7 linked regions of the Homo sapiens genome follow. The protein of the gene in region 5 purifies or fractionates together with the protein of the main gene of each other region. This does not show direct contact. Each region holds a gene or a part of one and is shown on either strand. Other genes may lie near its edges.

Region 1 (3,500 bases), on a different chromosome or scaffold from region 5:
GACAGAGACCCCATTTCTTAAAAAAATATATATATAAAAAAAAATCTAAAGTATCTCTATCGAGCTAGACAAGGTAGTTCATGCCCATAATCCCACCACTCTGGGAGACAGAGACAATAAGTTCGCTCAAGGCAAGGAGTTGGAGATCAGCCTGGCATCATAGTGAGCTCCTGGAGACCCTATCTCTACAAAAAAAAAAAAAAAATTAGCCAGCCATGGCGGTAAGCACCTGTAGTCCCAACTACCAACTACTCAGGAGGCTGAGGGAGGAGGATCATTGAGCCCAGGAGTTTGAGGCTGCAGTGAGTTATGCTGGCATCACTGCACTCCAGCCCGGGCAACAAAGTGAGAACCTGTCTCAAATACATAAAAGCGTCCCTACCTACATTACTATCGTGACAGGTATGGTAACTAGCCAAATTATGACCTTACTTGACAAAATAGATTATGTTTCAACCCAGTCCACGAAATGCAGCCACCATGAGTTTTTTCTTAACTTTGTCTAACTGACTCAATGCCAGATATCATGCTAAAAGCCTTCAATCAATTAACAATTAAAAGTATAGTTTATCACCAGGTGCAATGGCTCACGCCTTTAATTCCAGCACTTTGGGAGGCTGAGGTGGGCAGATCACGTGAGCTCAGAAGTTCAAGACAAGCCTGGGCAACATGGTGAAACCCCAACTTTACCAAAAATACAAAAAATTAGCTGGACGTGGTGGCACATGCGTGTATTCCCAAGCTACTTGGGAGGCTGAGGTAGGGAGGATTGCTTGTGTCCAGGAGGCAGAGGTTGCAGTAAGCCGAGATCACGGCACTGCGCTCCAGCCTGGGTGACAGAGTGAGACCCCATCTCAAAAAAAAAAAAAAAAGTACACTTTATGGTAATTCAAGTAACAAATTTAATTCCATATAAATTATACAATGCAACAGGGATATTATGTAAGTTCAGTGACAAAAGGAAAATGGCTATAAAGCCTCCAAAAATTGCACATAATTCACATATACAAGTACAGACTCAATTTAACTCATGATCTGAAATGAAAAATTCATATGGTCTGCTACTAAAACAGAAACTCTTGGACACCACCACTCTGAAGTCTAAACTGTCCTAACACTGTCAATAACTGTGCTGGAAAGCAAGGAGCCAATGAGGTGACACTGGATTTCGTACCTGTTTGAAGCTGTTCTTGCTGAAGCTCTGTTTGTTCTACTTGGTGAGGCTGACTAGAAAAGCTCTGGTTATAACTGGCCTGGTACTGATTTTGCTGTTTTAAAGTTTCTGGTTCATTAACAGGAGGAACTGGGGCATTCATATTGAACACCTGTTAGTAAATAAAGTAAATGATTAGTTCATCCTTTTATTCTCTGGTTTATAACATGGCCAAACTCAATGGTGGTTTTACCTCAGACATAAATAAAGACATCACAGAGGTCTCAAACACAAAAACATCACACACACATACAAAAATCCCTCCAAGTGATTCAATGTGGAAAAAGACATATATACCATATAGTACTTAAAGGGGAGTATAATATGCTGTGAAATGGAAGTAGGGAATTAAAAAAAATAAAAAGACATGCAATCAGCAGCCTTGGAAATGCTTTTACATATATGAGAAATCTTTTTAAAAGACAAACTCTGGCCTGGCACAGTGGCTCACACCTGTAATCCCAGCACTTTGGGAGGCTGAGGCAGGCAGATCATCTGAAGCCAAAAGTTCAAGACCAGCCTGGCCAACATGGTGAAACCCCGTCTCTACTAAAAATACAAAAATTAGCTGGGCATGGTGGCTTATGCCTGGAGTGTCAGCTACTCCAAAGGCTGAGGCATGAGAATCGCTTGAACCCAGGAGGCGGATATTGCAGTGAGCTGAGATCACGCCACTACACTCCAGCCTGGGCGACGGAGCAAGACTTTGTCTCAAAAAATAAATAAATAAGACAAACTCCTGGATGCAGTACCACTTACAGAAGTTTGTTCTATGAACTTTAACAGGGTTGAATGTTTTTTCATTTTTATTAACATATTAATCAAAAGTTATTTTAATATTTAATCTTATGAACTTTCCTCTCAGCACCGATTTAGCTGCACCCCACAGATTATAGTATTATTATTATTTTCTAGAAATTCTCTAAAGGTGCTTGCTCAAGAATCAAGGTAAAGCATAACATCTGAAACTTCAAAATACTTCAGTAAAATAAAAGATTAAGCAAACAGGGCAACTATTAAATCTAGGTAATGATTATATGGATGTTATATTAGTCTATTTCTCTGAATGTTTAAGCTTTTGTTAATCAAATCAAAAGGGTAAAACTACAAATTAAGATGATACAGGCACATCACTCATAAGGCTAAAATTTATCTCTAGAATATCCGTTAGTATCAGTTAATCTCTGGAATAATCAGTTTATGTTCAATTAAATATACCCTACAGTTAATGAAAGATGCAGACTCAAGCACAGTTAAATGAAGACCTTTAAAAAAGAAAAGAAAATCTACCATGATTCATATTACATACTAGGCAATTAATGTTAGTTAATTTGCTTACCGTTTGCATGGATTGGAATGGAGCTGCATTTACATTGATTCCACTGCTATGTAAAGGTTTGCTTGTCCCAGCCTGAAATACTTGAGGCTGAGACGCAGCAGGAAGGGATGATGATGCTGTAGTCTGGTCTGTATTTAAAGAGATTGTTGCCTAAACACAAAGTGAATAGATGCACTTTAGCGGTAAACTAAACTTAGCCAAACAAAAAGTGAACAGATGTACTAAAGTGGTAAATTAATCTCAAACTTATATGTATTAACAAACTCAAATATTTCATGAAAGCAAAGTAGGTCCAAAAAGAAGAATCATTATATTAATGGTAATGTACATCTGTTCAATTCATGAGTAAGTGCCTCATCAAATGTATGTGACCCGGTAACAGAACTTGCCTGAATCTGATCAATTGGTTCCTTCTGTGGTCGTTGCTCTGTAGCATGAGAAGGCTGGTACAAGGGTTGAGATGCTGTGTACCCCTCACTTGTGGATGATACCAAAGGAACCTAGACATAAGTAAAGAAATAAAAGCTTCTTCCTGCTTACAAAATTGACTGTTAAAAAAACAAGTTACCTCTAAGACGCATAAGGCTAAGAAATAGATACAACTGCTAAAGAAGGGAGAAATTAATATTACCATCTCTCTTTAAATTTGTATAATATAAAACCTAAAAATTGCAAAAATATATATATTTTTGAAGCTCGACGTTAAATAAACCCAAGTCTCGTTATAAAAGCCCTCCACAAGTACTTCTAAGATGGAGAAATCTGCACTAAATTTTAGAATTATGTCTAAACTATGTCTTCTGAAATTCTCAGTTCTAAATAAAAAAGGCTTATTATATTATAATACATTATTTAAAATGCAAGACTTAAGAAAAACTTAAAAAGTCATCAAGAGGAAAAATGAACCTAAACATAAAAATAAAGGCTGACAGCTATCCACAACAATAA
Region 2 (2,915 bases), on a different chromosome or scaffold from region 5:
AGAGGCTGCAGCCCCAAAACCAGACGCATCACTGTGGAAGGGAAGCGTCTGGAGAATGAGGCTGGGCCTCGGGAGTGTCAACCCAGGAGGGCCGGCGCTGCACAGTGAGGCAGGGAGGCGGACCGGGCAGCGCTGGCAGTGGACCGAGGTGAGCAGGATGCGCTGGGTGGACAAACGCTGCAGGCCACGTGCAGAGACTGCAGGGCACAGCATGGCTAAATCATTAATGATGGAAATGCACAACCTGCTATACCAAATTGGATTTCTTCATCCAAAAGGAGCAGTCTTATGAAATTTAACCTCCTGAACAGAGGGTGAGACAGTCCCTCTGGATTTTCACAAGCAGAGCTGTGCACGCTGGGCTGGACAATGTTCCAGAAGGTGCCCGGTACCCTGGGAGGTCCCAGGCAAGCCAGAACATCTGACACTGACTGTCTGGAGGACCAGGGCACGGGGCCTGGTTCTTGGACCTATTTGATTTGAAAAGCTGAAGGCAGACCACACGTCTAACATTCCCTTTATTGCTTACGTCACATATTCCAATGAATACAATAAACTCCTTTTTAAAAAAGTAAGGCACATGAAAAGCCTTTTGTGTAAGTTCCATGTTATTTTAAAATTCCTATTGGCTAATAAAAGCATTTGCACTATAGAACCAGAGACATCTAGAAAAGCACATGATAGATTTTTTTGCAAGCAGAATGCCTGAAACATTACATTTACCTCATGGCACAATGAGACAGTCACCAAATCCAATGTCTGCATTAGAACGATACAGCTACTATTACAGTTGCAAAACCATTAATCAGCTTATCCACATATGTACAGCTGGGTCCCCACGTGACAAAATCTAAAGGAAGAACAGCATCTAACTGCACCTGTGCTCCATTCCCTCACAGATAGGAACTGTGACATTTTGGCTCTTTCCATGTTGTGCTGCTCTTCACGAGAGGCCAGGGTCATACGATACTGAAGACCATGGACAGGTACTGTTCGTACGACACCTGAATCCAGCCGTCCTGATCCGTGTCGTAACGTCTGAATATATCCGTCAACCTCTGGGGAGAAAACAGGCATTTAAATCTCGATAGTAAATGGAAGGAGCAAGGTGCACTGGGACAAAGGCATGTAGGGACCCAATTTCAGAAGCACACACGTCTTCTGGGCTCCCTGATGGAGCCCAGCACAGGGAGGCGCAGGTGGGGCTGGAGCTGTTCACACGGACGGTGGGAGTGCGAAGAACGAAGAACACAGGGCTGCGGGGCTGGCTCCGGACATCCAGCCCTGGCTGAGCCCCTGGCTGAGCCCCTGACCCCAGGCTCTGGTCTCCTGAGTCTCCTGGGGGCCTGGGCCCTTCCTTCTCCCCCTGAAGACCGTCCCGTGGAAGCCCTCCACCCTCCAGTGGCTCGCCTCTGCTGTGGGGGCCACCTGGGGCATGTGCAGCGCAGGGGATGCCCAGCCAGATGGGCTTGTGACATCACGAGGGCTTCAGGTTCCTCCAGCCCAGCCCACCCCTCCCTCTCACAGCCGAGGGTCCAGGCCAGGTCAGCGGCAGAGACAGGGTGACCACCTACACTCCTGAAACAGGGATGGTTAAGTAAGTGACACTTCAACCGTAAAATACCCTGAAGATTCAGGCCAGCATGGTGACTCTCGCCTGTGATCCCAGCACTTTGGGGGTCCGAGGCGTGAGGATCGCTTGAGCCTGAGGGTCGAGGCTGCAGTGAGCCGTGTTCGCACCACCACACTCTGGCCTGGGTGATGGAGCAAGGGTCTGTCTCAAGAAAGAAGAAGAAAATGTGGCAGGGAAGACACAGCGTCCTCGCACATCAAGACCTGCAGGAACATGGACAGGGTGTGGTGACTCTCGCCTGGGATCCCAGCTACTCAGGAGGCCAAGGCAGAAGGATCGCTTGAGCCTCAGGGTCAAGGCTGCAGTGAGCTGTTTACACCACCACATTCCAGCTGGGGTGACAAGAGTGAGACTCCATCTCAAAGAAAAAAAAACAACCCTGCAGGAATGCCACAGCCACCACCGGGCTCCTTGACTTGGCAGAGGCTACGGCCTCACCCAACTCCAAAAGCACCGCAATGGATAATGCTGGCTTAAAGAGTAATGGGTAATTTTTCTTTCTATTTTGAATACTTTGTGTTTTTCTAGGGTTTCTAGAAGTGTTCATGTTATTTGTTAGAAAATAATTTTCAAAAAGCCTTTATCCTTTCAGAAAAAGCAGATAAATAAAAACGTTTTTGAGGGAATTTTAACTTGAGGTCTGCAGCTTTCTTTTCTTTCCCATTCCCCATCTGTCTAGCGTTTAGGGTCACTCTCCAAGGGTGGGGACAGCCTGGGAATTGGCTGTCAGGCCCTCCCCACGTGGTCTGGAGCAGGGCCTTGAGGAGGCATCTCCCAGGAGGAGCTACGCTGGCTGCAGATGTGCCTTGGAAGGCGCTGGAGAGGTCGCTGTGAGGCCGCCTGTGTTACTCCAGCTACCGAAAGCTCACACAAGATCAACGTTAACTTATAGAACATAACCTCAAATGAAGATCTGAGCCCTACGGCAATTCAGACACAGAACCTCAAATGAAGATCTGAGCCCTACGGCAATTCAGACACAGAACGAGATTTTACACGGCATCTTTTCCCTTTTTCTTTTCTTTCTTTTTTAAGACAGGGTCTGGCTCTGTCACCCAGGCTGGAGTGCAGTGGTGTGATCTCGGCTCACTGAAACCTCCACCTCCCGGGTTCAAGTGATTCTCCTGCCTCAGCCTCCTGAGTAGCTGGGACTACAGGCATGCGACACCAGGCCCAGCCTACACTTTTTTGAAAGTGTTCAGAGAACATTGTAAAAATGTCATCCAACCTGGCAGGAACCCCGAGAGGCAGGGGCAGGAAAGGGTCCCCAACCGTAGAGTTT
Region 3 (2,559 bases), on a different chromosome or scaffold from region 5:
CACTCTTGAGGGTACCTTGAGTGGATGCTGGCAGGGAGGGCCACTCTGCATCGCTTCCTCTTCTGATTCTGTTCCTAGGGTGCCATGCCCACCTTCACAGCAGAGGCCTGGGCACTGGCAGTGTGCAGCCACATGGGGGGCAAGGCGTGGGGCTCACGAGTGGTGGCCCAAGGCACCGGAAGCACTACTGACCTGGAAGCTGCCCTCAGTATAGCCCAAACCTATGCCCTCAGCCAGCTCTGACCCAGGTCCGCCCAGGGACCCACATGGACTAAAGGCAATGCCAGGAGCCCTGAAGGAGCCAGCAGAACCTTCCCACATGCTGAAGCGAGGACTAGAGGCTGGAGGCCAAGCAGCTGAGCCAAAGAAGATCACCTGGGCCAGGGCCTACGTGACACAAGGAGACATGGGCTAGGGAAGGCAGAACTGGGCCCAAAGACACACACCCCCTTGGTGAAAGAGAAGACATGGACAATTATGGCTGTGACTGCACATTAGAAATTATTTCACTGGCCGGGTGTGGTGGTTCACACCTGTAATCCAAGCACTTTGGGAGGCCGAGGCAGGTAGATCATGAGGTCAGGAGATCAAAACCATCCTGGCTAACATGGTGAAACCCCATCTCTACTAAAAATACAAAAAATTAGCCGGGTGTGGTGGCACACGCCTGTAGTCCCAGCTACTCGGGAGGCTGAGGCAGAAGAATCGCTTGAACCTGGGAGGTGGAGGTTGCAGTGGGCCAAGATCGCACCACTGCACTCCAGCCTGGGTGACAGAGCGAGACTCTGTCTCAAATAATTATTTCACAGAGGATAGCAAGCTCCAGAAGGTTCTATTACCTTTAAAAAAGAGTAGTTTTGCCCCTCCCAGCAACCTAAGACCAGTCTGAACTCACACTGTCTGAAAGGCCACCCAGGATCCAAATCGGGCCATCTTCATTGCCATGAGTGTTCGGACAGGCTCTGCGTGCCAGGCAACAGTGGGCAGACAAAGGGCTCCCTGGCTACTGGGAAGATACAGAACCATCCTGTGAAAATCATTTCAGCACTGGAGACCTTCTTTGCTATTACTTCTTTCATTAACAATGACCTCTAATTTAAATTGGGCCCTGCTGGTTTGTTGATGAATTGAGCAACTGAGAACGTGGCGGGCACTAAACTGACAGTTCCTTCCTTCATGGAGCCTGCTTCATGTGGAGGAAACAGGAAATAAAGCAAAAGAAGAGGGTCAGGCTTGGTGGCTCATGCCTATAATCCTGGCATTTTAGGAGGCTGAGGTTGGAGAATCGCTTGAGGCCAGAAGTGCAAGACCAGCCTGCGCAAACAGCAAGACCCTGTCTACAAAAAAAAAAAAAAGTAATCTTTATGCCTCAGCCTCCCAGGTAGCTGAGACTACCCACACCTTGGTCCCAGCTACTTGGGAGGCTGAGGTGGGAAAATCACTTTGCCCAGGAATTCAAGGCCGCAGTGAGCTATGATTGCACCACTGCACTCCAGGCAACAGAGTGAGACCCTGTCTTAAAAAAAAGAAGGGAGAAAGTGTCAGATGGTGATGAGGTCTGGGGGGGAAATAGAGAATGGGGATCAGGAGTGTGGATGGTGATATTCCCTCACCAAGAGGTGACATGTGAGCAGGGAGCTGGGAGGTGAGGGTGTGACCCGTGTGGAAATCAGGGAAAAGCATTCCAGCCTGAGGGAACAGCCAATGCAGAGGCCGTGAGGTGGCCAGTGCCACTGAGCAGTGAGCTGGGATAGGGGCAGGTGAGGAGGCTGGAGAGCGGGGTCAGACAAACAATATGCTTATTAAAACAAGTTGTACAGCACCTGCCTCAAGCCTGAGCTGAAGCTGAAAATTGGCACTTCAAAGCAGGAGGAAGCAGAGATGGAGGAAAGCCCTCCTTCCCTACCAGAATGAGTCCACCTCAGACAGCCAGACTTTGGACCTCTGCCTTTGTTCCTAGATCTCTGTTGCTAGATGAAGGAAAGGGCCTCAGGGGATCCATCTTCAAATCAAGGGCTCCCTGGCTACCAAATTCTGTCTAGTAAAAATTATTCGAGCAGCGTGGGCCCGCCTGGCATCATTTTCTGCAGTTTCTCATTCTAATTAAGGCACTGATGATTTGCTGGTAAGGCACTGCTGAGGGCTTGAAGGGACCCAATCCCGGGTGCCTGGCCCCTCACTGCTTGCAAAGCAGCATCCTGGCCACTGGGGCAGTAGCCTGTTTAGCAGTGCTCACCACAGGCCCAGGTTCAAGCTCCTCCGCGAGCGCCAAGATGAGTTTTGGCACCCCTGATTTATTGATGAGTTAACAGAGCTTCGAGATGTTCATCCAGGGTAACCAACTAGTAGTCCTCGGCAGAGCTGAAGTCAAAGCTACCCTTTGAAAGCCCCGCCACCCTGGCTGCCTCTCCCTTCCTGAAGGCCAATTTCTTTTTTTTTACTAGCCGTCCCTCTGGTCTGTCCCTCTCGCCCTCCAGGAGATCTGGGGCCCCAACCACATCTTGTCGCGCCAGGGCTGGAAGAGAGTTTGGCACAGGGCATGGACTGTGTGAAGGAGCG
Region 4 (3,500 bases), on a different chromosome or scaffold from region 5:
TGCTCACTTTAAAATCTTACACCCTCAGACAGTAGCACCAAAGGGAGGGGTGTCCATCTGCATTCTTGAAATGTGCACGGAAGTGGGGGAAGGTAGAAAAATTTACACCATATCGTAAAGCAGAAGCTACTCAACTGTGATTAGGAGGGAAGCCCTTTTGAAATCAGTGATTTGAAAAGATAAGGCAGGGTAACACATCATTAACATACCTATAAGTAACAAGGCCCCAGTTCTCCATGGCACCTTCACAAAATAAATATAAACATTTATTGATATATATATATATATATATACTCTTGCATCAAAAGTCACAAAATTTTAAAAAGTTATTACAATTCAGCAATAAAATGAAATTTACTTTACCAGCTGCAAAGTCTGCAATAGCAATGAGATCAATTTTAGGTAGAGGATAAGGAACATTGAAGTAGTCCTTATAAAAAGGCAAGGTTTTAGCAGCAACCTATAAAAGTATAAACAAAATAACCATCTAATAAATATGTTATTATAATTCATATTGAAACCCACAAAGGAATCCTGTTGCAAGCCAATGTATCTTAAATTACTAGAAATGAATCCCGAGGAGCCCTACCCTCCGAAGACTGCCTTAGCTCCAAACTTTGAATACAATGGCCAAACTTTAATCCATTTATAACTTGATATGAAAAATATAACTACATATTTTCCAACCCATTCCCTAGAGAAATTCCACTCTTATATTCTCTTAATTATTATTTTGTAAAATAATGAAACACCAAGGTTGGCATTTCCTAAATTCTACTAAAAATAAACCAAGTAGCACAACTTTCAGATTAAATTATAAATAACTGTACTAATAATTGACCAGAAATGTAAATTCCCCAACCTGGAGTTATGGACTGTTGGAACAATCCTCTTCAAGTACATTTACCTCTAACGCAAATTTTCCTTGCTCTGCTTTGCCAACAGGAGTGTAAACACGGACACACACACCATCTTTTGACCTTGTTTCTACAAAGTCATATTCACCCACAACAAATGCCACCAGATATGTAGACATAACAGGTGTGCGGGCAAACTTCACTTCCACTAAATTTTCATCATCAGGGTATGGTTTCCGGTCAATTACATTCTTTAAGAAATAAAAAAAAGAAAAATTTAAATAGGTTTACATTAATACCATAGAGCAAATACCAGCCAAAAACTGTAGGCTTTATTGCATCTCTTTACCCCTTTCTATTCTAGCATGGCTTATTTCTCTACCCCAATTCATCCAGTGCTTTTATGCTGTCTTTAAGAAGGAAAGTGGTCTGATAAAACACTCATACTAAGAAGCTGGAGGCTGAAGTGTTAAAACTACCAAGGACCTGTGAAAGAAAAGAGGAATGGACTTTTCTCAAATACTTATTATAAGCCAGGCATTGGGATGATTTAAGTTAAGGGCTTCATACTTTTCAACTGACATAAGTTTAGGAGAAAATGACTATTAATAAAAATAAAATAGGGGCTAGGCGCGGTGGCTCACGCCTGTAATACCAGCACTTTGGGAGGCTTAGGCAGGCGAATCACAAGGTCAGGAGATCAAGACCATCCTGGCTAACATGGTGAAACCCCATCTCTACTAAAAATACAAAACATTAGCCAGGCATGGTGGGGGGTGCCTGTAATCCCAGCTACTTGGGAGGCTGAGGCAGGAGAATGTCGTGAACTAGGGAGGCGGAGCTTGCAGTGAGCTGGGATCACACCACTGCACTCCAGCCTGGGCGACACAGCGAGACTCCTTCTCAAAAATAAATAAATATAATATAATTGTAGAATCTCCCATTTCAAAGGATACAAACTTCTAGATCGAGGGCATTCTCTACCAAAGTTGGCTCTAAGCTTATTTGTGAAGAAATTTCAACTTTACCTTTGGAGTCCCTAATTTCCTTTGGTGTTCTCCCTCTTTTTCCTATTCAGGCTCTGTTTCCTCAAGCTCTCTCTATTCTTCCTTCCAAGGAAGACTTATTCAAGAACACACTGATAAATTCACTCATACTAAAGTGTGAATGAATATTTCCGTTTAATATATTAGCCTCCTCTTCTAAGAATATGTGAGAAGAGAATGACATTCTATTTATGGGATGCTCTCCCCCAATAAATACATAAAAGAGTTATTTTCAGGTGCAGCAGGTTTTTCCAAGTTCCCCACACAAGACAGTCCTAGACAACACACTTCAAGTGGGGAATGCTTACCCTGTTCATGAATGAGATCAATAACACTGGTGAAGAGAATACATTCCAAGAATACAAACAGCCAGAGACCTAAATATACTTCATTACGCAGCTACATCTTTTGAATTTTTTTAACTTTTTAAAAACATAAGAGACAGGGTCTTGCTCTGTTGCAACCTTTTTTTTTTTTTTCCCCCGAGATGGAGTCTTGCTCTGTCACCCAGGCTGGAGTGGAGTGGCGCGATCTCAACTCACTGCAGCCTCCACCTCCCAGGTTCAAGCAATTCTCCTGCCTCAGCCTCCCAAGTAGCTGGGGTTACAGGTGCCTGCCACCATATCTGGCTAATTTTTGTATTTTTAGTAGAGATGGGGTTTCACCATGTTGGCCAGGCTGGTCTCGAACTCCTGGCCTCAAATGATCCACCTGCCTCAGCCTCCTGAAGTGCTGGGATTACAGGCATGAGCCACCATGCCTGGCCTATTTTTTTTTTTTTAAGAGATGGGGTCTTGTTCTGTCACCCAGGCTGGAATACAGTGGCACAATCACGGCTCCCTGTAGCCTCAAACTCCTAAGTTCGAGAGATCCTCCCACATTAGCCTCCCAAGTAGTTAGGATTACAGACACGTGCCACCATACCTGGCTAACTTTTAAGTTTTAAATCTTTTGTAGAAATGAGGTCTCACTATGTTGCCCAGACTGGTGTCAAACTCCTGGCCTCAAGCAATCCTCCTGCCTTAGCCTCCCAAAGCACTGAGATTACAAGCAAGAGTCACTGTACCTGGCTTTCTTATGACATTTAATAAGTCAAGACCTTTTTCTTTTTTTTTTTTCTGAGATAGGGTCTGGCTCTGTCACCCAGGCTGGAGTGCAGTGGTGTGATCTCAGCTCACTACAAACTCCGCTTCCTGGGTTCAAGTGATCCTCCCACCTCGGCCTCCCAACTAGCTGGGACTACAGGTGTGTGCAACCACACTCAGATAATTTTTGTATTTTTAGTAAGGACAGGTTTTCACCATGTTGGCCAGGCTGGTCTTCAACTCCTGACCTCAAGCGATCTGCCTACCTTGACTTCCCAAAGTGCTGGGATGACAGGTGTAAGCCACCATATCCAGCCCAAGACCTTTTGCTTTTAGTTACTATAAATCTATTAAACTTGTCAATTTACCTCTCTAAATTAAAAGAAGTAGATAATCTTATAAATGTATTTAACGAGGAATTTGACAAAGAGAAAATCCTCCAAAAATAAAGCTATCAAGAAAAAGAGGTCTTGGCTGGGCATGGTGGCTCATGCCTGTAATCCCAGCACTTT
Region 5 (3,500 bases):
GTGGCATGTCCAGGTGGGGGCTGATAGCTGTGGGAAACAAGGCTGGAAGTAGGAAGGGGCTTGGGATTTATCTGACACTTCGGGTGACCAACCGTCCTGGTTTGCCTGGGCTGAGGGGTTTCCCAGGATATGGGACTTTCAGTGCTAAAACTGGGAAAGTCCTGGACAAACTAGTATAAACTGGTCACCCTACCAGTGACAAGTGACAGTTCTTAATACACTCTTACCTTGACCTAGAGCAGTATGGATGGAGAGGGAAAGTTTAAGATAGTTAAAAGAATTATTTATTTATTATTATTATTTTTTAAATACACAAGGCATCTGGAAACCCTCTTCTTTTTTTTTTTGAGATAAGAGTCTTGCTCTGTTGCCCAGGCTGGAGTGCAGTGGCACGATCTTGGCTCACTGCAAGCTCCGCCTCCCGGGTTCACGCCATTCTCCTGCCTCAGCCTCCAGAGTAGCTGGGACTACAGGCGCCCGCCACCACGCCCAGCTAATTTTTTGTATTTTTAGTAGAGACGGGGTTTCACCGTGTTAGCCAGGATGGTCTCGATCTCCTGACCTTGTGATCTGCCCTCCTTGACCTCCCAAAGTGCTGGGATTACAGGCATGAGCCACTGCACCCGGCCTAGACTTTACTTTTTTAGAACAGTTTGAGATTTACAGAAAGGTTGAGAAGATAGCACAGAGAGCTGGAAACTGTTTTTAGCTTCATTATTCTTTGTAACACTCCCAGCTTGCAAACTGGAAAGGAATTTTCCTGTTAGGGTTTTACTTTTGCTAAATGGTAGAAAACTTCATACCTGTGGTCTCTGTCTGCTGAACTGAGTTAGTGATTTAGCTCAGGCAGATTGAAGTAGTCAAGAGGTTATTTGCTACACACCATGGGTGGTTTATTGTCCAGATTAGTGGCAAGGCTGTGACATTGACTGACAAATGTCCACCACCAAGCGGAAGCCTGAGTGATGGAATCGTTTGATTGCTACTGAAACATCATCTTTACCAGGGACTGCAAGTCTGCGGCTGGTAGAAATTGGTCGTTTTTGTATTGTGGCCTTCATTCTGGTCCACTTTGTGTGGGGGTCAAGATTTTTGGTTCCAGTGACAGAAACCCAGCTAGAATTGCCTTAAGCCTCAAATGGATTGAATAGCTCATGTCACTGAATGGTCTGTCCCCGCTAAACCATGGCTGAATCCAGGTGTTTGGAGCCGTCAGAAATCGGCCTTTTTCCACCTTTCAGCTCTACCTTTTTCCTGTTGGTGTCATTTTCAGGCAGGCTGCAGGCTTACATCATATCAGCTTAGCATTCCTGAGGAAAAAGAGAGCTTCTTTTCTCAATATTGCCAGCAGAAGTCCAGAATTGAGATTGAGTATCCCTGGACCAGCAAGGTCTCATGCCACCCCTGAACTGTCACTCTGGCCAAAGGTATAGGGGGATCTGATTGGCCATTCCTCACTCATATTCCCTTCCCTGGAGCAAGAGTGGGATTAGCTCCACTCAAGCTAGTGGAAAAGAATGAGAGAAAAGAGTGGTTCCCCATGGGAGAATCAGGGGTTATTGCCCAAAGAAGGCGGAGAATGGATCCATGGCAGGTAGACAGACGCACACCTACTCTTGGTGCTTTCAAGTTTTGGCTAAGGTGGCACTGACAGTGTTAGAGCTTGGGGTACAATATTGCCATGTTGATTTTCTTAAAATATCGTCTTCACCATGCCACATATTATGGGTCCTAGGCTCCCACTATGTCACGTCTAAGTTCTTCCAGGCCTTCCCACCATCTAGTTTGGGAGCACAGGGAGTTAGGAACATCCTTGTTAGGCAGACGCTGTTTAAATGGAGACCAACGGGGTGAGTCGTTGTTACCAGGCAGCGGGGTGTCAGGTGGAAGGAAGGATGTTTCAGGCAGAGGAAAAGGCATTTGAGAAAGCCTAGTGGGGCAAGGGGAGCAGTGCACATTGGCAGAACTCACGTGGTTCAGCAGGGGAGTGTTCACTGGGTGAAGAGGAAGTGAGGACCCAAGCTCAGAGCCATGCTTGGCAGTCTCCAGAGGCCAGGTCCCCTGGGGCCCTGTAAATCACTTTAAGGAATTCAGACTATGAGTGAGAACAGTAGGGAGCCACTGAAGGTTTTTTAACTACAGAAAGGCTGTGGTCTGGCTGAAGCTGGCAGAATGGATTGGATGAGGGGCAGACTGGAGGTGGGCCTCCACATGTGTTGGTGGGGCGGGGAGCAGGGGCTCTGCTGCCGTCCCCTGGTGAGTTACGGTAGCAGCTGCTGTCATCCAGGTGTATCTCCTGTTGGTGGTCCACTCACACACATACCTCGCCTGCCCACTTGAGGTCCCCTGCTCTTTTCCTCCTGCCCATCCAAATCCCTAGCTCTATCCCGAAAATGCCAGTTCTTCCCTAAAAATTGCCCTGGTGACTTCAGCCAACAAGAGTTTTGCTGTCTTCTCTAACTTCTTCTGTGCCTGTTCACACTGTCCCACACAGTTAACACATTATTATATACTTCTCATCGCCAAAGAGTGGGTCGGCTGTTAGCTCCTGTGCGTTCTTAAAGTTTCATCTCGGCCTTGAGTTAGACCCTCAGGAAGCTGGCCGGGGTTCCTGTCCTTTGGCTATCAGACATTGTCTTCCTTTGTTACATATCTTTTTTGTTGTTTTCTCCCAATTTGAACATAAGAATCATGAAAGCCTGTATGGCTTGTTCAGCTGGGTACTGGTATGCCAGCACAGGACGTGGCAGATAGTAAGCAATCAACAAATATTTGTCACAGGATGAACGAGAGGCAGACCTCTGTTTTCAGAAAAGGCCAGTCTTTTCCCAACAACTGCTTGTTCTCCCCAGTTTAGTCACAGCACCTGTGCCACAGCCATGACTTTCTCTAGGGCTAAAGCCCTAAAGAAAGCTAGGGTATAGCCCTGCCTATACCCTACACATCCCCGGCCCAGCCTCACTTGCCGGCCCTGTTTGACATCTTTGGGGGATGATTCACCAGGGGAAGCACAGCCTGTGAACACCTTCTCTAATCCTCTAGCCTGATTCCACCCTCCGTGAAGCTTCTCCTTGTCCTGCTGGCCAGAAGGCTGAACACTGACCAGATGGTGGTTTTCAGGGCACAGAGTGGGACACACTGGGGAACGTCTGCAGGGCCTCTGCCCGAGTGCTGAACAGGCCAGACAGATACAGGCTCTGTGTCTCCCATCCCTCTACCACACCTGAGACATTGTTATTTGGAGCTGTGTGGACATTGGGGGGTAAATTTCTAACCCCCAGACCTCCTATCATTCTGCTTATCCTTTCTCATGCCCCACCTTGCAAATGTACATTTCAAAATCTTGAAGGAGGAGCATCCTAATAAGCTCATTATGGTGCAAGGCATAGCACGTGCAGAAAATGCTGTCACTGAAATGAACTTGGACCTAGTATTCCTGTCTCTGAAATGGACTGAATTGCTAATTTTTGAAGGATATGGGGCATTATTAACTGTAGTGG
Region 6 (3,500 bases), on a different chromosome or scaffold from region 5:
GGCGCGGTGGCCTATGCCTGTAATCCCAGCATTTTGGGAGGCCGAGACGGGCAGATCACGAGGTCAGGAGTTCAAGACCAGCCTGGCCAATATGGTGAAACCCCGTCTCTACTAAAACAAAAAACAAAAATTAGCCAGGCATGGTGGCACATGCCTGTAATCCCAGCTACTCAGGAGGCTGAGGCAGGAGAATCGCTTGAAACCAGAAGGCAGAGGTTGCAGTGAGCTGAGATCGTGCCACCGCACTCCAGCCTGGGCAACAGAGCGAGAGCCTGTCTCAAAATAAATAAATAAATAAAAATAAAAATTGCAATGGCAACTCAAGGGAGAGTTGAAGCCTTCTTGTTGTTCTACAGATTTGGGTGTGTACACTTGTATGTGCACACAGAGATTGTTTACATTGTTACACATTTTCACTTTTAATCTCTAAAATTGCCATCTCATTTTAAGATGAAAATAGAAGCTCAGTTTTTCATGATCCTGGTTTCTGTCAAATTCTTGATTTAGTAGGGGCCAAGATTACCAACATAGATAACTAAAGTATTCTACATATGATGCATTCCTTTTTAAAAATTTGTTTTAGAGGACAGAGGTTTAATCATTCTTTATGAGGCTGAGTGCAGTGGCTTACGCCTGTAATCCCAGCACTTTGGTAGGCCAAGTCAGGCAGATCAATTGAGGTCATGTTGAAACCCTGTCTCTACTAAAAATATAGAAATTTAGCCAGGTGTGGTGGTACGTGCCTATAATCCCAGCTACTGGGGAGGCTAAGGCATGAAAATCACTTGAACCCAGGAGGTGGAGGTTGCAGTGTGCCAAGATCACGCCATTGTACTCCAGCTTTGGCTAGTTATGTGGTACTGCTATGCTATTAATTTTTTTAAAAATTATTGTGATTAGGAATGGGATCTCACTATGTTGCCCAGGCTAGCTGGGCTCAAGCAATCCTCCTGCCTCAGCCTCCTGAGTAGTGGGACTATAGGTGTGCACCACTACGCTCTATTTTTATCATAGAATAAGCCAAAGGCAGCCTTTTATAACACTGTTTAGAGCTGAGTTAGGGATAATGAAAGCTTTAAATTGGGGGTAATTATGTACAGTACATGGCAAAGGCATAATAATGAGCTCTTACAAGTCAGTGATACCTAGGCAGGACCCCCAGTGGAGATGAAGTTTAGCTATTATCAGTTTACTTTTAAAAGTTTAACATCACTAAATGCAGTCAATACAATTTAAACTTAATCAATACCTCTTTTCATTACAAATCAGAAAGAAAAAAAAACGTTATAAGCAATCATTCCTCAGTATGATCATGGAAATGGGTTCCTTCATTACTCCTATGAGTATAAATTAGCAGGACTCTTTGGCATTTTGCATCTAGATCCTCAAAAATGTTATCCTTGACTCTTTATTTTTACACTCATAATTCATGAGTATAAAAGAATCATATGAAAGCTTATACACAAGCATGTTCCTCCAGCATTATTTTCCATCACAAAAAATAGGGGAATGGTTAACCATAGAATGAACACCCATTGGACAGATCCTAACTGGATATCATATAATATAGTATTACCTTTTGTAAGCCTCAATTTCCTCATCTTATGGAGTGAAAATTAATTGAGATAAAGCCTATAAAGTGTTTTTCACACCTGCCTGGCACGGAGTAAGCACTCACATAATAGCTATTAACTTTGATTCCTGAATGAATGCCATAGAAACCATTTGAGGCTCCCTCATTGTTACCAGTGCTCATTTTAACAATCCTGTTGTCCAAGAGTGCCAGGTTTTCTTCTCTCTATGCTTAGCAACAGTCCCAGTGGGTTCCGGCTAGCTTTCTGCATTTCGTAAAGTGGTCACAATAAATACAAAAGCCATGCTATGTTCCACATAGAAGTCGAAGTAGAAAGACTCCCATGCCATCCCATTCATTACCACATTTTACCACGTAAGTAATAAAAATCCACAGTGTCGGGGTGGGAGTGCCAAGGCTTCATAGGTTCCATTTGAAAACTTTACTCTGCAAAAGGAGATCAGCCCCAGGAACTAGTACCTAAGACAGACACTGGCCTCTTATATTTCATATCCTTTAGGTATTTGTCTGATACTTCTTCACTCTTAACTGCAGCCCTGCCATTTCAGCAGGCATTAAACTAGATTCCTGTTACATGTTTATATGCAGGAAATAGATTTTAAATGATGATAGGTGATTTTTTTTTTAATTCTTTGTGGTTTTTTTAATCAAGTTTTTTTGTTTTTTGTTTTTTGTTTTTTGTTTTTTTTGAGACAGAGTCTTACTCTGTTGCCAGGGTAGAGTGCAGTGGTGCGACCTTGGCTCACTGCAACCTCCACCTCTCAGGTTCAAGCAGTTCTCCTGCCTGAGTCTCCCAAGTAGCTGGGACTACAAGTGCGTGCCACCACACCCAGCTAATTTTTTGTATTTTTAGTAGAAACAGGGTTTCACCATGTTGGCCAGGATGGTCTCAATCTCTTGACCTCGTGATCCGTCCACCTCGGCCTCCCAATGTGCTGGGATTACAGGTGTGAGCCACCATGCCTGGCCACTTTAATCAAGTTTTCTACAATCAATATGTATTTCTCTTAAAATGAGGGATACAGCTCCTGATGTAAAGAGTTTTTCCTAGCCTTGCAATTACTATGGTTGCAAGAATAAGCAGAGTTTTTGGGTTGTGGTGAAGTATCTAAGCTAGAGTTTGACTAGAAATGAAGGCAGGTAAATTTGTAATCAGAAAGTCACAATGATTTGATTTGATTGTGAAAGTCACAATCCCCTGTGTTAAGTTCATGGACTCAAAGTAGCTTTCCCATATTTGTACGTCATTTTAAACATAAATTATGCTCTAAGGACCTTACATTCAAAAAGGGACGAAAGCATTTTTATGAATGATAGTGGTTATAGGAAATGTTTATTTCTTTTTTGTTTGTTTATAGTAAATCTGATATGTCTCGCTTGCGATTAGCTGCTGGTAGTGCCATAATGAAGCTTGCTCAGGAACCTTGTTACCATGAAATTATTACCCCAGAACAGTTTCAGCTCTGTGCACTTGTTATTAATGTAAGTAACAATCTTATTTTTGTCAATTACTTATCTTCAAAGTTGAATACATTACTTTTCTATGGATACAAATCCATTTATAATGTGAATATATGCACAAAAGTCACTACTATTATTACCTGTTTAACTGTCTTCCAATTATTACATTATTTATTCTCCCATATAATTATCTTCTTTTTAATTGAAGACACTAAAAATACTTAAACTGCTGTTTTTTATTTAATAAATGGTTGCCAATTTAAGTTTTTCTGTGCTGCTGTAGGATGAGTGTTACCAAGTAAGGCAGATATTTGCTCAGAAGCTGCATAAGGCACTTGTGAAGTTACTGCTCCCATTGGAGTATATGGCGATCTTTGCCTTGTGTGCCAAAGATCCTGTGAAGGAGAGAAGAGCACACGCACGACAATGTTTACTGAAAAATATC
Region 7 (3,232 bases), on a different chromosome or scaffold from region 5:
GCATTCATTTTCCCACCTGCAAAACAGAGTCCCTCACACCTGACCTTCTATAAGAAAAGAGGAGTAGGCGGCAGGAACTGAGACTAAGGGCTCTGGGGCTGTTCTGACGGGAGCACAGTTGCCAGTGCTGCCCTTTAGTGTCCCTGTTCCTGTGGGCAAGTATCTTAACTTTTCTCTGTCTCAATTACTTCATAGGGAAAATGAAGATAATAGCACTTAATAGGATCATTACAAATTAAAGACTTAATACATGTAATGCTTAGAATAGGCCGGGCGCAGTGGCTCATGCCTGTAATCCCAGCACTTTGGGAGGCTGATGCAGGCGGATCACCTGAGGTCAGGAGTTCAAGACCAGCCTGGCCAACATGGCGAAACCCTTTCTCTACAAAAATATAAAAATTAGCTGGCATGATGGTGGGTGCCTGTAATCGCAGCCACTTGGGAGGCTGAGGCAGGAGAATCGCTTGAACCTAGGAGGTGGAGGTTGCAGTGAGCTGAGATCACGCCACTGCACTCCAGCCTGAGCAACAGAGTGAGACTCTGTCTCAAAAAAAAAAAAAAAAAAAAAAAGCATAGAACAGCCTGGCACATAGTACTGCTCAATGAATGTTGGCTATTATTTATTTTCCAAATGTTACAAAATAAATTTATATAAGTATGAAACTTAAATAGTACTTATTATGTGCCAGGAATTCTTTTAAGAAAATTACAACTATTGGCCAGGCGTGGTGGCTTATGCCTGTAATCCAGGCACTTTGGGAGGCCGAGGTGGGTGGATTACTGAGTTCAAGACCAGCCTGGCCAACATGGTGAAACCCTGTCTGTGCTAAAAATACAAAAATTAGCTGGCCGGGCTCGCTTGAACCCATGAGGCAGGGGTTGCAGTGAGCCACGACGGTGCGACCACACTCCAGCCTGGGTGACAGAGGGAAACTCTGTCTCAAAAAAAAAAAAAAAAGAACATTACAAGTATTAACTCATTAATCCTAAGTGATAGTTGCTATTCTTATTCCCGCTATTGAGATGAGGACACTGAGATCCAGAGAGGTTAAGTGACTTGCCCAGAGGCACACAGCCTGTTGTGGGATTTGAACCCTGGCTCAAGAGTCCATGCTGGCTGGGCATGGTAGTTCACACCTGTAATCCCAATACTTTTGGAGCCCAAAGCAGAAGGATCACTTGATGCCTGGAGTTTGAGACCAGCCTGGGCAACATAGCAAGACCCTCTCTCTAAAAAAAAAAAAATGTTTTTAATTAGCTGGGTGTGGTGGTGCGCACCTGTAGTCCCAGCTACTAGGGAGGGGAGGCTGAGTTGGGAGGATCACTTGAGCCCAGGAGTTCAAGGCTACAGTAAGCTATGGTCTCACTACTGCACTCCAGCCTGAGTGACAGAGAATCCCTGTCTCATTTGCCAAAAAAAAGAAAGAGTCTGTGCTCCTGACTACTTGTGATTATCATTAACTGCCCTCTCAGAAAGGTGAGAGTGAAATGAATGTCAGAGGCAGAACTCCTGACTCGCATCCAGTCACTTCCCAGCAAAGCCCTCACCCAGACCCAACAGTTTTCAAATTTACAAATTAGAGGCCCAGGTGAACCCAGAATTACCTCTGTGATCTTTTTCTTCACCATTAGGCGACCAAAAAAGACACTCAGTATGGTGTTAGGAAGACACATCTTTCTTCTCCACGAGTGCCCGTAATTCCACCATTAGACTGCCACTGTAAAACCAAAGTCTGCCCAGGGAGGGAACCTAACAGGTCCCCAGTTCCTCAGTGGGAACTGTCTGTCAGATTCCTGGCAGCTCTGGGATAGCCCATGTGTGGCAGAAAGTAAGGAGACTGAGGCTGCAGGCTTTCTGGGTTGGGTCTCTGTGGTCCTCCAAGCCTCTGTCCCCTCGAACTTGTCCCACATGACCCCACAGGCATCAACACGTGTCTCACTCATTTTCTTCAGAGCATCCACAAGAATCTAGAAGCAAAAATAGCCCGCTTCCACCAGCGGGAGGATGCCATCCTCTATCCCAGCTGTTATGACGCCAACGCCGGCCTCTTTGAGGTGTGTGGAAGCTGTCCTGCGGGTGAGGGTTGGTGGGGCCTGTTAGGCTGAGGAAGGCTTGGGTGTGGGCAGTCGGGAGAACCTAGCAGGATTCAGTGCCATGCCTAGAGGCTCCAGAGCCCGCTTCTGGAGGTCAAGGTTGGGCCAGGTAGGTGCTCCAGGAGGAATCCTGGGGCTTGCAGGGAGCCTGAGTTCCAGAGCCTTTGGGGGATAAGCTACATCAGCTGGAAGGCTGGGGGAGGCGGGGGCCTGGTACTCACCAAATATATTCTCACCTCCTCTTACTAGAGCAGGGCGCTGGTCCAGCCCGGCACTGAGACACGGGGGCCCCAGAGAGAAGCACAGAACACCTTGCCTCTCTACCCAGAGGAGCGCCCTGGCTGGCAGTACAGTTTTTTGATTTGCTGGAGTCCCGGTCAAGGGAGAAGCCCAGGGTGGTTAAATGATGGCTCTACGCTCACTGCCTCCCTCCAGGCCCTGCTGACCCCAGAGGACGCAGTCCTGTCGGACGAGCTGAACCATGCCTCCATCATCGACGGCATCCGGCTGTGCAAGGCCCACAAGTACCGCTATCGCCACCTGGACATGGCCGACCTAGAAGCCAAGCTGCAGGAGGCCCAGGTGGGGCGACGCCTGGGTCCACCCTCAGCCTCCGCCTGGGGAAGGAAGTGAGGCTTAGAGAGGCCAACTCCTCACTCACAGAGATAGCCTGAAAGTTTGAAACAGCAGAGATTTGTCCAAGATGTGAACCCAGATCCCTCACACCCAGAGCATTATTCTTTTTTTTTTTTCCCTGAGACAGAGTTTCACTCTGTCGCCAAGGCTGGAGTATAGTGGTGTGATCTCGGCTCACTGCAACCTCCACCTCCTGGGTTCAAGTGATTCTCCTGCCTCAGCCTCCCAAGTAGCTGGGATTACAGGCATCCGCCACCCCACCTGGCTAATTTTTGTATTTTTAGTAAAGACGGGGTTTCATCATGTTGTCCAGGCTGGTCTCGAACTCCTGACCTCAGTTGATTTCACCCACCTAGGCCTCCCAAAGTGCTGGGATTATAGACGTGAGCCACTGTGCCTGGCACCAGAGCATTATTCCATTGTGCCATGGTGCCTTGAGGTTTTTCCCTGTGTATGTGTGACAGTCTCACTCTGTTGCCCAGGCTGTATTGCAATGGTGCAG

Evidence for each region.
Region 1: the proteins of CLEC16A (region 5) and CAPRIN1 purify together in Homo sapiens (affinity purification with mass spectrometry, with the first as the bait; one study listed by BioGRID). This does not show direct contact.
Region 2: the proteins of CLEC16A (region 5) and PDCD6 purify together in Homo sapiens (affinity purification with mass spectrometry, with the first as the bait; one study listed by BioGRID). This does not show direct contact.
Region 3: the proteins of CLEC16A (region 5) and AARS2 purify together in Homo sapiens (affinity purification with mass spectrometry, with the first as the bait; one study listed by BioGRID). This does not show direct contact.
Region 4: the proteins of CLEC16A (region 5) and NPEPPS purify together in Homo sapiens (affinity purification with mass spectrometry, with the first as the bait; one study listed by BioGRID). This does not show direct contact.
Region 6: the proteins of CLEC16A (region 5) and PDS5A purify together in Homo sapiens (affinity purification with mass spectrometry, with the first as the bait; one study listed by BioGRID). This does not show direct contact.
Region 7: the proteins of CLEC16A (region 5) and GCAT purify together in Homo sapiens (affinity purification with mass spectrometry, with the first as the bait; one study listed by BioGRID). This does not show direct contact.

What each region holds. Positions count from the first base shown.
Region 1 is NC_000011.10:34,089,731-34,093,230, reverse strand, and holds part of CAPRIN1 (caprin-1), read right to left. Parts: intron 3,053-3,500; coding exon 2,942-3,052; intron 2,703-2,941; coding exon 2,553-2,702; intron 1,326-2,552; coding exon 1,175-1,325; intron 1-1,174. UniProt on the Homo sapiens protein: mRNA-binding protein that acts as a regulator of mRNAs transport, translation and/or stability, and which is involved in neurogenesis, synaptic plasticity in neurons and cell proliferation and migration in multiple cell types.
Region 2 is NC_000005.10:312,560-315,474, reverse strand, and holds the end of PDCD6 (programmed cell death protein 6), read right to left. Parts: intron 1,059-2,915; coding exon 960-1,058; 3' UTR 501-959; downstream 1-500. UniProt on the Homo sapiens protein: Calcium sensor that plays a key role in processes such as endoplasmic reticulum (ER)-Golgi vesicular transport, endosomal biogenesis or membrane repair.
Region 3 is NC_000006.12:44,298,231-44,300,789, reverse strand, and holds the end of AARS2 (alanine--tRNA ligase, mitochondrial), read left to right. Parts: intron 1-78; coding exon 79-243; 3' UTR 244-2,059; downstream 2,060-2,559. UniProt on the Homo sapiens protein: Catalyzes the attachment of alanine to tRNA(Ala) in a two-step reaction: alanine is first activated by ATP to form Ala-AMP and then transferred to the acceptor end of tRNA(Ala). Also edits incorrectly charged tRNA(Ala) via its editing domain.
Region 4 is NC_000017.11:47,583,108-47,586,607, reverse strand, and holds part of NPEPPS (puromycin-sensitive aminopeptidase), read right to left. Parts: intron 1,109-3,500; coding exon 908-1,108; intron 461-907; coding exon 364-460; intron 244-363; coding exon 210-243; intron 1-209. UniProt on the Homo sapiens protein: Aminopeptidase with broad substrate specificity for several peptides. Involved in proteolytic events essential for cell growth and viability. May act as regulator of neuropeptide activity.
Region 5 is NC_000016.10:10,947,564-10,951,063, forward strand, and holds part of CLEC16A (protein CLEC16A), read left to right. Parts: intron 1-3,500. UniProt on the Homo sapiens protein: Regulator of mitophagy through the upstream regulation of the RNF41/NRDP1-PRKN pathway. Mitophagy is a selective form of autophagy necessary for mitochondrial quality control.
Region 6 is NC_000004.12:39,862,912-39,866,411, reverse strand, and holds part of PDS5A (sister chromatid cohesion protein PDS5 homolog A), read left to right. Parts: intron 1-2,952; coding exon 2,953-3,076; intron 3,077-3,338; coding exon 3,339-3,500. UniProt on the Homo sapiens protein: Probable regulator of sister chromatid cohesion in mitosis which may stabilize cohesin complex association with chromatin. May couple sister chromatid cohesion during mitosis to DNA replication.
Region 7 is NC_000022.11:37,810,934-37,814,165, forward strand, and holds part of GCAT (2-amino-3-ketobutyrate coenzyme A ligase, mitochondrial isoform 2 precursor), read left to right. Parts: intron 1-1,953; coding exon 1,954-2,055; intron 2,056-2,343; coding exon of another isoform or gene 2,344-2,529; coding exon 2,530-2,676; intron 2,677-3,232. UniProt on the Homo sapiens protein: Pyridoxal phosphate (PLP) dependent enzyme, which catalyzes the cleavage of 2-amino-3-oxobutanoate to glycine and acetyl-CoA.